2 linked regions of the Homo sapiens genome follow. The protein of the gene in region 2 interacts with the protein of the main gene of each other region in a pairwise test. Each region holds a gene or a part of one and is shown on either strand. Other genes may lie near its edges.

Evidence for each region. Proteins that work in one complex are often made in the same cells at the same time.
Region 1: the proteins of LRPAP1 (region 2) and ETV7 interact in a two-hybrid assay, tested with the Homo sapiens proteins (one large-scale study listed by BioGRID and IntAct).

The regions. Positions count from the first base shown.
Region 1 is NC_000006.12:36,376,852-36,381,985, forward strand, and holds part of ETV7 (transcription factor ETV7), read right to left. Parts: intron 1-5,134. UniProt on the Homo sapiens protein: Transcriptional repressor; binds to the DNA sequence 5'-CCGGAAGT-3'. Isoform A does not seem to have a repressor activity. Isoform C does not seem to have a repressor activity.
Region 2 is NC_000004.12:3,521,618-3,526,751, reverse strand, and holds part of LRPAP1 (alpha-2-macroglobulin receptor-associated protein precursor), read left to right. Parts: intron 1-1,700; coding exon 1,701-1,845; intron 1,846-5,134. UniProt on the Homo sapiens protein: Molecular chaperone for LDL receptor-related proteins that may regulate their ligand binding activity along the secretory pathway.

The DNA.
Region 1 (5,134 bases), on a different chromosome or scaffold from region 2:
ACTAGCCCACACGCATACAGGCAGCATGGGGCACAGCCGGGCTGTCTGGCTATTGAACTTTTCTGCTCCATTGTGCCAACTTGGAATCAGGTTTGCTCAGGGAACAGCCCAGGGGACAAAGGGAGCCTCCTACACTCACCTTCAGTGCATGTGTTTTTATTTCTGGCAGTAGCCAGACAAGTGGCTGCTTATTCTCCCCACGTTTCCACTTTGCCTGGGACTGCTACGCTCCTAATGCCAAGTTTTGGATAGTGTTCAGCAGGGCTACGTTACGACTTCATGAGCCCTTGACACATTTGCCTTTGTGGGCAAAAAATATTTAAAATACACTGAGCGTGGTGGCTCCCACCCGTAATCCCAGCACTTTGGGAGGCCAAAGTGGGCAGATCACTTGAGCCCAGGAGTTTGAGACCAGCCTGAGCAACTTGGTAAAACCCCGTCTCTCCAAAAATACAAAAAAGAAAATTTAGCCGGGCATAGTGATGCACACTTGTGGTCCCAGCTACTTGGGAAGCTGAGGTGGGAGGATCGCTTGAGCCCGGGAGGTCACAGTGAACCATCATTGCGCCACTGCACTCCAGCCTGGGTGACAGAGTGAGACCCTGTATCAAAAAAATACATAAATTTAAATCCTATTTTATGACTGCACTGGTGTAAAGACTCAGAGCTCACTGGGTTCAGTTCTACAGGTAAGAAAGTTGAGGCAGAAGAGAGAAGCAACTGTCCAAGGCCACACCTTGGCAATGATAAAGACCAGACCAGCCTCTGCTCCCTTATACTCAAAGCAACACAGGAAATGAACTTAATTTTAACATTTAAAACAAAGGAGATCTGCATCTTTCCTTGTTCATTCATTCAGCCAATATCTAATGAGTACCAGCTTGTGTCAGTCACTGTGCAGGGCTAGGGACACGGCACAGAACCAGGCTGGCAGGAGGGAGGAGCCCCACCACCAATAACTCTAACGATAGTCCTCCCGACGGCACACAGGGAACGTTCACTGTGCTGAGAAAACAGAAAGCAAGGAGCTAGAGCCCAGTTTAAGAGTGAGGAAAGGTTTCCTTTACTTCTATTTTGGGACCTAAAAATGAGTAAGAGAAAAGAGTACATGTCTGAAATTGCCAAAAAAATTATTTAAGGCAGGAAAAAAGAATACATGTGAGAACTGGCCTCTGTGGTACTGCATGTGACAAAGCCATGTAACTAAGATCAAATGGTCTTATGCTAAGATTGGCAAGTATCATTGGAAAAGAAGGTGGAGCCCAGGAGCAAGTAAGTGTTCATGCACGCACACACGCGTGCCTATGTGTGTATGTATATTTTGTAAAGTTAATACATGACAGAGGCAGGATTTTAATTCAGAGGGAAAGGATAGTTAATCTAATATGGAAAAAAAAAAAAAAAACCTGACTCTCCACCTGGAAAAAAATACATTTGGGTCCTCACCTCCCACCATTCACATTCACAAAAATCAATTGTAGGTAGATTAAAGGCATAAAGAATAGAAAAATACAAATCTTAATAGAAGTAGAAATCAAAAACCAAATGCACTCAATAAGAGCAGAGAGGACCTCAACCATGACAGGAAACGCAGAGGCTGTAATAAAAACGAAACACACATTTGACTACATTAATTTTCTGTGTTTGCTGCAAAAGATACCATAAACAAAACTAAAAGAGGGTAGATTTCAGGGAAATATTTGCAATGCAGATGACAGATAAAAGGTTAATGCCTACCATAGGTCAAGAGCATCTGTAAATTGATTTTTTTAAAGACAAAAAAAATCTTTCCAGCAATCCCAGCAAAGCAGGATTTCTCAACCTCAGCACTATTGACTCTTTGGGACTGATAATTTTTTGCTGTGAAGGCCTATCCTGTGTGTTGCAGGATGTTTAGGAATACCCTGGTCACTATCCACTCAATGCCAGCCTAGTTCTAACAACTAAAAATGTCTCCAGACACGGCCAAATGTCCCCGGGGGGAAAGGAGCAGCAAAATTGCTGCCAGGTGAGATCCCCTGTGGCACAGCAAATCCACCAATAAGCATGTGACAAGACATGTCACCTCAATAGTCAGGGAAATGTACCATCAGAGAAGAATAAGATATTTAATAGCAGGAGTGCAGGGAAAAGGATGCTTTGCTGGTGAAGATAGGAATTTAGAGCCGCGATGGGAGATGAGTCTGGTGATACATGAGACGCCGAAAGCTGACTTAGTGTAAAATGTGGAGGCCACACGATGGGCAGATTCCTGAGGGGTCGAGGGCAGGCCTCCACAGCCAGCCAGGGCTTCCGCGGCTAGGGTGTCAACCGCCAATTGCATTGTACCTGAACTCATATTTTTTGTGTAGTTCCCCTAGTTCACCATATTGGAGGCGTCAGCCTGAAAATTCAAAACTGTGATTCCTGGCCTGTTGTGGTGGCTGAGGCCTATAATTCCCAGCAGTTTGGGAGGCAGAGGAGGGAGGATCATTTGAAACCAGGAGTTTGAGACCAACCTGGACAACATAGTTAGACCCTTGACTCTACAAACAAAAAAATTTTTTTTAATTAGCCAGGCATGGTGGTGCATGCTTATAGTCTCAGCTACTCAGAAGGCTGAGGAGGGAGGGATTGAGCCCAAGAGTTCACGGATGCAATGAGCTATGATATTGCCACTGCACTCCAGCCTGGGCAACAGAGTGGGACCCTGTCTCTTAAAAAAAAAAAAAGAAGAAGAAGAAGAAGAAGAAGAAAAAGAAGAAGGCCGGGCGTGGTGGCTCATGCCTGTAATCCCAGCACTTTGGGAGGCCAAGGCAGGCAGATCATAAGGTCAGGAGTTTGAGACCAGCCTGGCCAACATGGTGAAACCCCATCTCTACTAAAAATAAAAAAATTAGCCAGGCACAGTGGCACGTGCCTGTAATCCCAACTACTTGGGAGGCTGAGACGGGAGAATCACTTGAACCCCAGAGGTGGAGGTTGCAGTGAGCTGAGATCAAGCTACCGCACTCCAGCCTGGGTGACTGAGCAAGACGCCATCTCAAAAAAAAAAAAAAAAGTAAAAACATACAACAACAACAGAAAGCATAGATGATGTTGCCAGGCCAGCTGTAAATAATGTGACCTAAATGACAGTACCTCAGTTTCATCATCAGTGAAACCAAGGATGATGAAAAAAATTGTACTGTCCACACAGGGCTGTCACAAGGATGCTTTCAGATAACCCATTTAAAAGCAGCATCTGGCATGTGGCATGTGCTTTTTGACACACATAGAGCTATAAATGTCAATTAGGTAATACACGTAAAATGCGTGGCACAGGGTCCAACACCTGGTGGGTATTATCTAGGGCGTCAATCACCCTCAAGAAGTCTCCCTGACCCAGTTGCCAGGATGAGAGTAACTGGGGCTCCCCTTCCCAATGTAAGGTGAATGTGGGACTTCACCTGCAGATCAGCCCCCGGCCTCTCCCTCTCTTGGCAATAATCCATTGCATTTTCAGTTCTTTCCCATTAACCATCTTTGTCTCTCAAGACTCCAGGCAAATGTCACCTCACTCTCCCGGCCCAGTGGCCTGCTAACTGAGGATTTCCAGCTTGGCCAGCTCCCGACTCCCAGCTCCCAAGGCAGATATGGACAGAGTCCCCTGGCTGGGGCAGCAAGAGGAGCTGCCTGTCCAGGACACAATTGGAGGGCTCAGGTGTCTCCCTGAAGAGTCAACACTGTTGTCCCCTACCTCCTCCCAGAGCAGGGCTACATGTGGGGGCTCCCCTCCACCTCCCAGCTATATCACGTCCACTGCCCTTATCTGTGGACATAGCGCTTCTTTACATAGTCACTGAATCCCCAACTAGAATGTAAGCTCCAGGAGGCACAGACTTTGCCTGTCTCAGTCACTGTGGTCTCTCCAGCCCCTATAGCAATGCTTGGCACATAGTAGCTGCTCAATAAAAATAAATTGCTTAAATAAGTGAGTTGAGCAAAGCAGTGTGGGGTCACCCCCAGGGCCTCCTTGCCTGCCCCTTCTCCAGCCCCTGACTCCCACCCCGACCCCGACTGGACCTCTCTTCCCACAGCATCCCTTTTACTCTCTTGCTGAAGAAACTATTGTTCCCAACTACCAAGCCCATCAAGTCAAAACCCCTCTGTCCTGGTTTCAAGACCCCTCAAAGTGCCCCTCCCCACCTGACCAAAGCTATTTCCCACCACTTCCCACCACACCCCTGCAGTTTACTGGGTCTAGTGAGCTCCAGGAGCCACAGAGCCTGACCAGCCTTTAGCAACCAAATCAGAATGAACAGCTGGCTTCTCCCTACCTTGCAGGATCCCCTTGCAGGAAGAATGCAGGAGGCAGTTAAAGTGCTTGGCCAGTACCCTAAAAATGGGAGCTATCATCATCTGAGGCTAGAGGCAGTTTCTCAAAGCAAATGACAGCTGTGGGGTCTGAGGGATGCCGGTTCAAATCCCAGCTCCACCATTTTACTGGTAGGTGGCTTTGGACAAGATAATTCACCTATGGCCCAGTTTACACAACTGTAAGGCGGAGATAACAAAAAAAGCTACTTTCCATGCCTACTGAATATATTCAATCAGATAATAAATACGGTATGCTCATCACAATACCTCGTCAAGAATAAAAACTCAACGAATGAATGGCCTTTATTCTGATGATCAGGATGCTGATCATCAGACCCCAGCCTGAAAACAGAGAGACTAGCTTGCTTCTCTGCCATGATGACTACGTTTTATCAATTATCATGTCCTTAGTTTATTGTGTGTCATGGTGTCTTCAGAGACTCCTTAAATCTGTCACCCCATTGCTTGGCCCCATTGTCTTGGTCGATAATCCTTTTCTTGGTAATCACACCAAGCTTTACGGTCATCACCACACTGTGGGGGCAGGGCCAGTGCATACAGTTCACGTTGTGTACTGCACAAAGATACCATCAGAGGAGGGGAATGGGAGGATGGAGGTGAAATCCAGCTGGGACTTTGATTGGCTTCTCCCCAAAGGAGGAGTCTTTCCAATTTGCACAAAGATGCATATGGTCTAGCCCAGACCCTGCATTTAGGGAGGGGAGAGGTTCTTTATCCTCATATTAATAGTTCTTGGAATTCCCCATCTGCTTGTTTGGGTCCTCACCGCCACATT
Region 2 (5,134 bases):
CAGGATGGGCTCAGTCTAGATACAGGCAGAGTGAGGCGAGGAGGTTCCGGAGTGTGGGGTGTGCCAAACACACAGAATTGGCTTCGTGCGAGTCTTGAAAGAAACGTGTGCCCCTGCGCGGCGCGGACCTGAGGGCTGGGCCTCCTGAGGTCTCGGGCTGCAAGGCAGTGTGGGCCACAAGGCGGCGCGGGCTGCGGGACACTGGGAAGGCAGCCGGCTCTTGACGCTTCGTGGGGATGTTCACTGTTTTACGTAAACTTTATTGAAATATAACACACATACTTTGGATACTAGCTTGTGTTGTATTTATGTTAGAAAATAGCTAATGAAATATAGATAAAAGATTAATATTTCAAACGTCTAAGGGAAAACAGACTCCATATTTAAACACACATGATCAGAGACAGGCGTTAGGTGATGGGCACCTGGAGCTCAGAGGCAGGAGCTGGGGTTCCCTCCTAGAGCCACGGGCAGCTCATGAGGACCAGCCCCGGGGGAATGTGAGAATGCAGGTGCTCAGGGAAGGGGACCCTCCTGAGAGCCGAGAGATTTGGGGATCTGCACTGCACAGTGCCGAGCACTTCCTTTGCTGCAGGACTCCACAGAGGCTTTAATGCGCTGGCGTCACTACAGGCATGCGGTGCAGCCTCCCCAGTTAGCCAGGGACAGCACCCTGTCTCCGTGAACCCTGGTCCCACCTCATGACACGTTCTGGTTCACACAGCTGGGCCACTCTGCTCTGCACGGAAGAGCCTTCGCTTCCCTGAAGGGCTAGCCTGCCCCAGCGCACGCCTCTTAGCGGCCGGGCCAGCCCCGAGGCCAGAGTTGATGAGAGCTGGCCGGTGGGTTTCATTCTGCTGCTTGCCTCGGCCGCCTGGCATTCTGGCCCAGTCTTTCTGACGTGGGGACACTCTTGGCCTAAATCCTGTCTTTGCAACCAAAAAGCAGTGTGCCCAGCGGTCACCTCACTTGCTTCCTTCTCTCACCCAGGGTCCCAGAGCTGGGAGGGCAGGGGTGGGATGAATGAAGCGTGGCCTGCCCTGCGGAGAGGGATGAGGGTGGGGCGGGGAAGTTCCTCAGCCCCAGTGCGGCAGCTCGTTCCGGGGCGCTGCCTGTGTGGTCTACGCCAGCAGGTAAGTGAGAGGGTGACAGATTCCTGCTCCAGAAGGATCTGGGGCTGTGTAAGAACCGTCTCAGCAAGACAGTTCGGATCATGGTACACTTGAGAGGTGGTGACTGAGGGTCTTTGGGAAATGAAGATGGGGCAGATCTGAGATTACAGTGATTTTTTTTAAAAAAGAACTTCTAGGTGTCTGTGTCCTTGCAATATGTATCTGCAATGGTAATGCAGTGGGTATCTTCTTCCTGCTCTGTTTATCCGAGTGCCCGATGACTGTCCTCAGGTGCTAGGGTGGGGTGTCCTGTTACAGCCGGACAGGAATGAGCAGCCGCTGCTGGTGGGGAGCCCCCGATGGACTTGGGGTTTCCGGATCGTGTATACAGACAGGCCTAGAGACTGGTGTCCATGTTGAGTTCTTGTCTAAACCTGTGGGGTTTGAATCCTGCTGACAGTGACCCTGACTCCACCTCTTCCTGGTCTCCCAGAACCTCCCGGTGGCCAGCCTCCTCCGAGGTCAGTTTCTCGCTGTGTCCTGGTCCGTCCTGCTCGTGGCTCACAGGCTCCTCCCCTTCGTTCGCAGCTGCATCTTCCTCCCGTGAGGCTGGCCGAGCTCCACGCTGATCTGAAGATACAGGAGAGGGACGAACTCGCCTGGAAGAAACTAAAGCTTGACGGCTTGGACGAAGATGGGGAGAAGGAAGCGAGACTCATACGCAACCTCAATGGTACGTTTGTTTCTTTCCTAATGCAGGTCGAGTATCCCTCTTCCTAAATGCTTGAGAGCGGCAGTGTTTTGGATGTCGGATTTTGTTTTTGGATTTGGGAATATTTGCATTATGCTTAATCTGGATATCCAAAATGAGCCTTTCCCCGAGCATCCTGAGTGCCCAGAAAGCTTAGGATTTGTGTTGGGGGCTCACCCTCATGAGGGAGGTGGCCACTGGCTTCAGTGTTTGGGGGGGCTAACCCTCATGAGGGATGGTGGCTGCTCGCCTCAGTGCTGTGGGCTACGCCTCTGACTCCTTGGCTTTTGGCCAAGGGGCCCATTGGGCACAGCCTGCGGGGGGCTATCCTCCGAGCACAGATGCGCCCTTGGCCGTGGTCTCAGTTTGCTGTCACAGATGCCATTGGCACGCCAGAGGGAGGGCCAAGGCAGGGGCTCTGGGTGCAGGAAGGGGCCGGAGGACAGCAGGAGGCTCTGTCACCCAGAGGAGGAAGCAGGTCTGCCCTAGCATCTTGAAGTTTTGGGGACATACTCCAGATGTCATCAGAATGGACACTTGGTTGTCATGCGCTTAGTGAGTCCTCGTCCCTGTGGGTATTCAAGAAGAGGCAGGACAGTCGCCTGCTTGGTACCAGCATACGGAAGACAGGTGTGTCCTCAGAGCCGGGAGGGTTTTAAATGACAGAGTTGCGACTGTTCCTTTTGGACCCCTCTCCTCCGCCATCCTCCCTCACCACGGGCCCGTCGGCAGGGCACTGGCGGGCAGAGGACGCACACCAGGTGGGCCCGTGGGACTGGGGTTGGGGCTGCTCCGGAGAGTCGAGTGCTCAGCTGCCTGCTGTCAGCTATGTGTAGCAGCCCTAGGAGCTGCTGTGCCTCCACCCAACTGCTGCCCCTGGGCCTGACCCCAGGCACCCCTTCCCCAATCCCCTCCCCCGCTGCTCCCTGTGTGACCTGGGCCCCCGGCACAGTCCCCTGCCCCCCACCTCCGTTTCCTCCTCCTGTCTCACAGGACGGTGGTGTGAACCAAGTGGGATACTCCCCACTGTGGTGGGGGTGGGGGTGGCTGCCATCGCACTTGTTGCTGTCGTGAGGGTGGCCCCAGAGCCCTGGCCATGTCTGGAGTCTGCTGTAGCCCTGCTTTTCACACGCGCTGATGGCCTCAGGCATTGCAGCGCCCGGGTTGTCTCTGGTAAAGAGAGGAGGTGTCTACGGAGTTCCTTCGTTAGGCCTGATGCTCTAACACCTACTCCTCAAAACTCGTTGTCGTCCCATTTGACAGGCTCAGAGAGGGTGATTTGTCTGGAGTTGCAGAGCCGAGTAGTGCAGCAAAGATTTGGAGTCAGGGTTTTCTGACTCCTGAGCAGGTGGTCTGTTCCCAGCCACCCCTCTTCTCCCATTGGCAGGCATCAGCAGACATGTCATGTGGCTGCGCCCGGGTTAAAGACAGAGGGCCGGCTTCATTTTTGCTGGTTTATGCCACCATGTTCAAGAGTCTGGTTGAGACGTAAGCCAAGATACGGCGGCAGGGACTGCCTGGGGAAGAGAGACATGGCTGAAACAATTCTGGATGGTTGCGTCCCCACCAGCGTGTCTAGTGGGCCATTCCCAAGGGCCAAGAAAGAGCCTGTCCTGGAGGTGCCCCCAGGAAGAAGGGACTGGCTATGCAGCAGGGCAGCATTCGGGGCCTGGAGGAGACAGAGTAGCTTGCAGGGGGCACAGAAGTGGGCTAAGAACCAGCTCCCTCCTGCAGGCCAGGCAGTGTCCTTGCAGGGTGTCCAGGTCTGTGGCCCAAGTGGAGCTGTCTTGTTTTCTGCCATTGCCTAGTGACCTGGCAGAAAACTTAGTGGGACTCTAGGAGCCGGCGTCCCAGAAGCAGACCCTGCCCACACTCAGGAAAGAGGCTCGTCCTGGCCAGTTCCCCGCCATCTTCTGGGTGTGGTCCCTGGACCCCCGAGGTCCCCCGTGCCATTATCAAGTGTGATACCATACCTGGGGGACCAGCCATAGCCAGGTGTGCCTGCCCTTGGCACCCTCCATGCTGAGGTCCACCCTGAGACAGACGGGCCACGCTCCACTCTGCCCTGCCCTGCTCTGCTCTGGGGTTCGCTCCTGTCCTCACCCCCACCGCGCCCCCAGGGCCACTTCACTCCCCAGGCAGGGAGTGTGGGGCGGCGTCCGTCCTCCCCAGGCAGGGGGTGTGGGGCGGCGTCTGTCCTCCCCAGGCAGGGGGTGTGGGGCGGCGTCCGTCCTCCCCAGGCAGGGGGTGTGGGGCGGCGTCTGTCCTCCCCAGGCAGGGGGTGTGGGGCGGCGTCCGACTTCCCCAGGCAGGGAGTGTGGGGTGGCGTCTGTCCTCCCCGGGCAGGGCGTGTGGGATGACGTCCGTCCTCCCCAGGCAGGGAGTGTGGGGCCGTGTTCATCCTCCCCAGGAGCTCTAAGGGCTCGGTGCTCCTGAGGCCGCCTCCAGCTTCAGTGCTCTGTGACTCCATTCCATGCAGAAGAACCCAGCACCTCCAGAATCCAGAACCTTCCATAGTCCCTGCTGCTGATCGCAGCCGTGGGTACTCTGCCTTTTGATGGGGTCTGACCAGCCACTTTGGGCTCTGGCTCAGAGCTTTTGGCTCCAACTAGGAAGGCTTGAGCCAGGCTAGCCTCAGAGCCCCAGGACATGGCCCACCCTCCCCGTCTCCCCCTCTCCTCCTCTCGGGCTCAGGGGTGCACGGCCTGGGGGTGGGACCTCAGTGCTGCTGAGCAGTGGCTGGACTTGGGGGTCTGGGCAGGACGGCCTTCACAGGCAGGCCTGGCACTGGCTTTCTAAGGCCAGGAGGCATCCAGGCCACTTTTTTAAAAAGTTTGTGTATTTTTGTATGTATTTATTTCATTTATTTTCTCATCCCCCACAGCCGGTATTATTTATTTAATTATTTATTTATTTTAAAAGATGGGGTCTCACTTTGCTGCCCTGGCTGGTCTTGAACACCTGGGTTCAGACGGCCCTCCTGCCTTGGCCTCCCAAAGTGCTGGGATCACAGGCATGAGCCACCGCGCCCGGCCTAAAATAGTTATTTCAGGTATAAATTCCCTGCCATGGAAGACAGGCCCAGCATGTGGTTGAGCTTTGAAGCATGCATCTACGGGACCCGTGCCCAGCGCCAGCAGCTCTTGACTGCTGTCAGGAGAGACGGCTTTCCTCAGGGACAAGACCACAGGCTGGTTTTTCACGCTTAGGAAGATCACAAGCGCTTCCAGGCTGGAACACAAGAAGCACATGCTGCGTGTGGCCTTGAGAC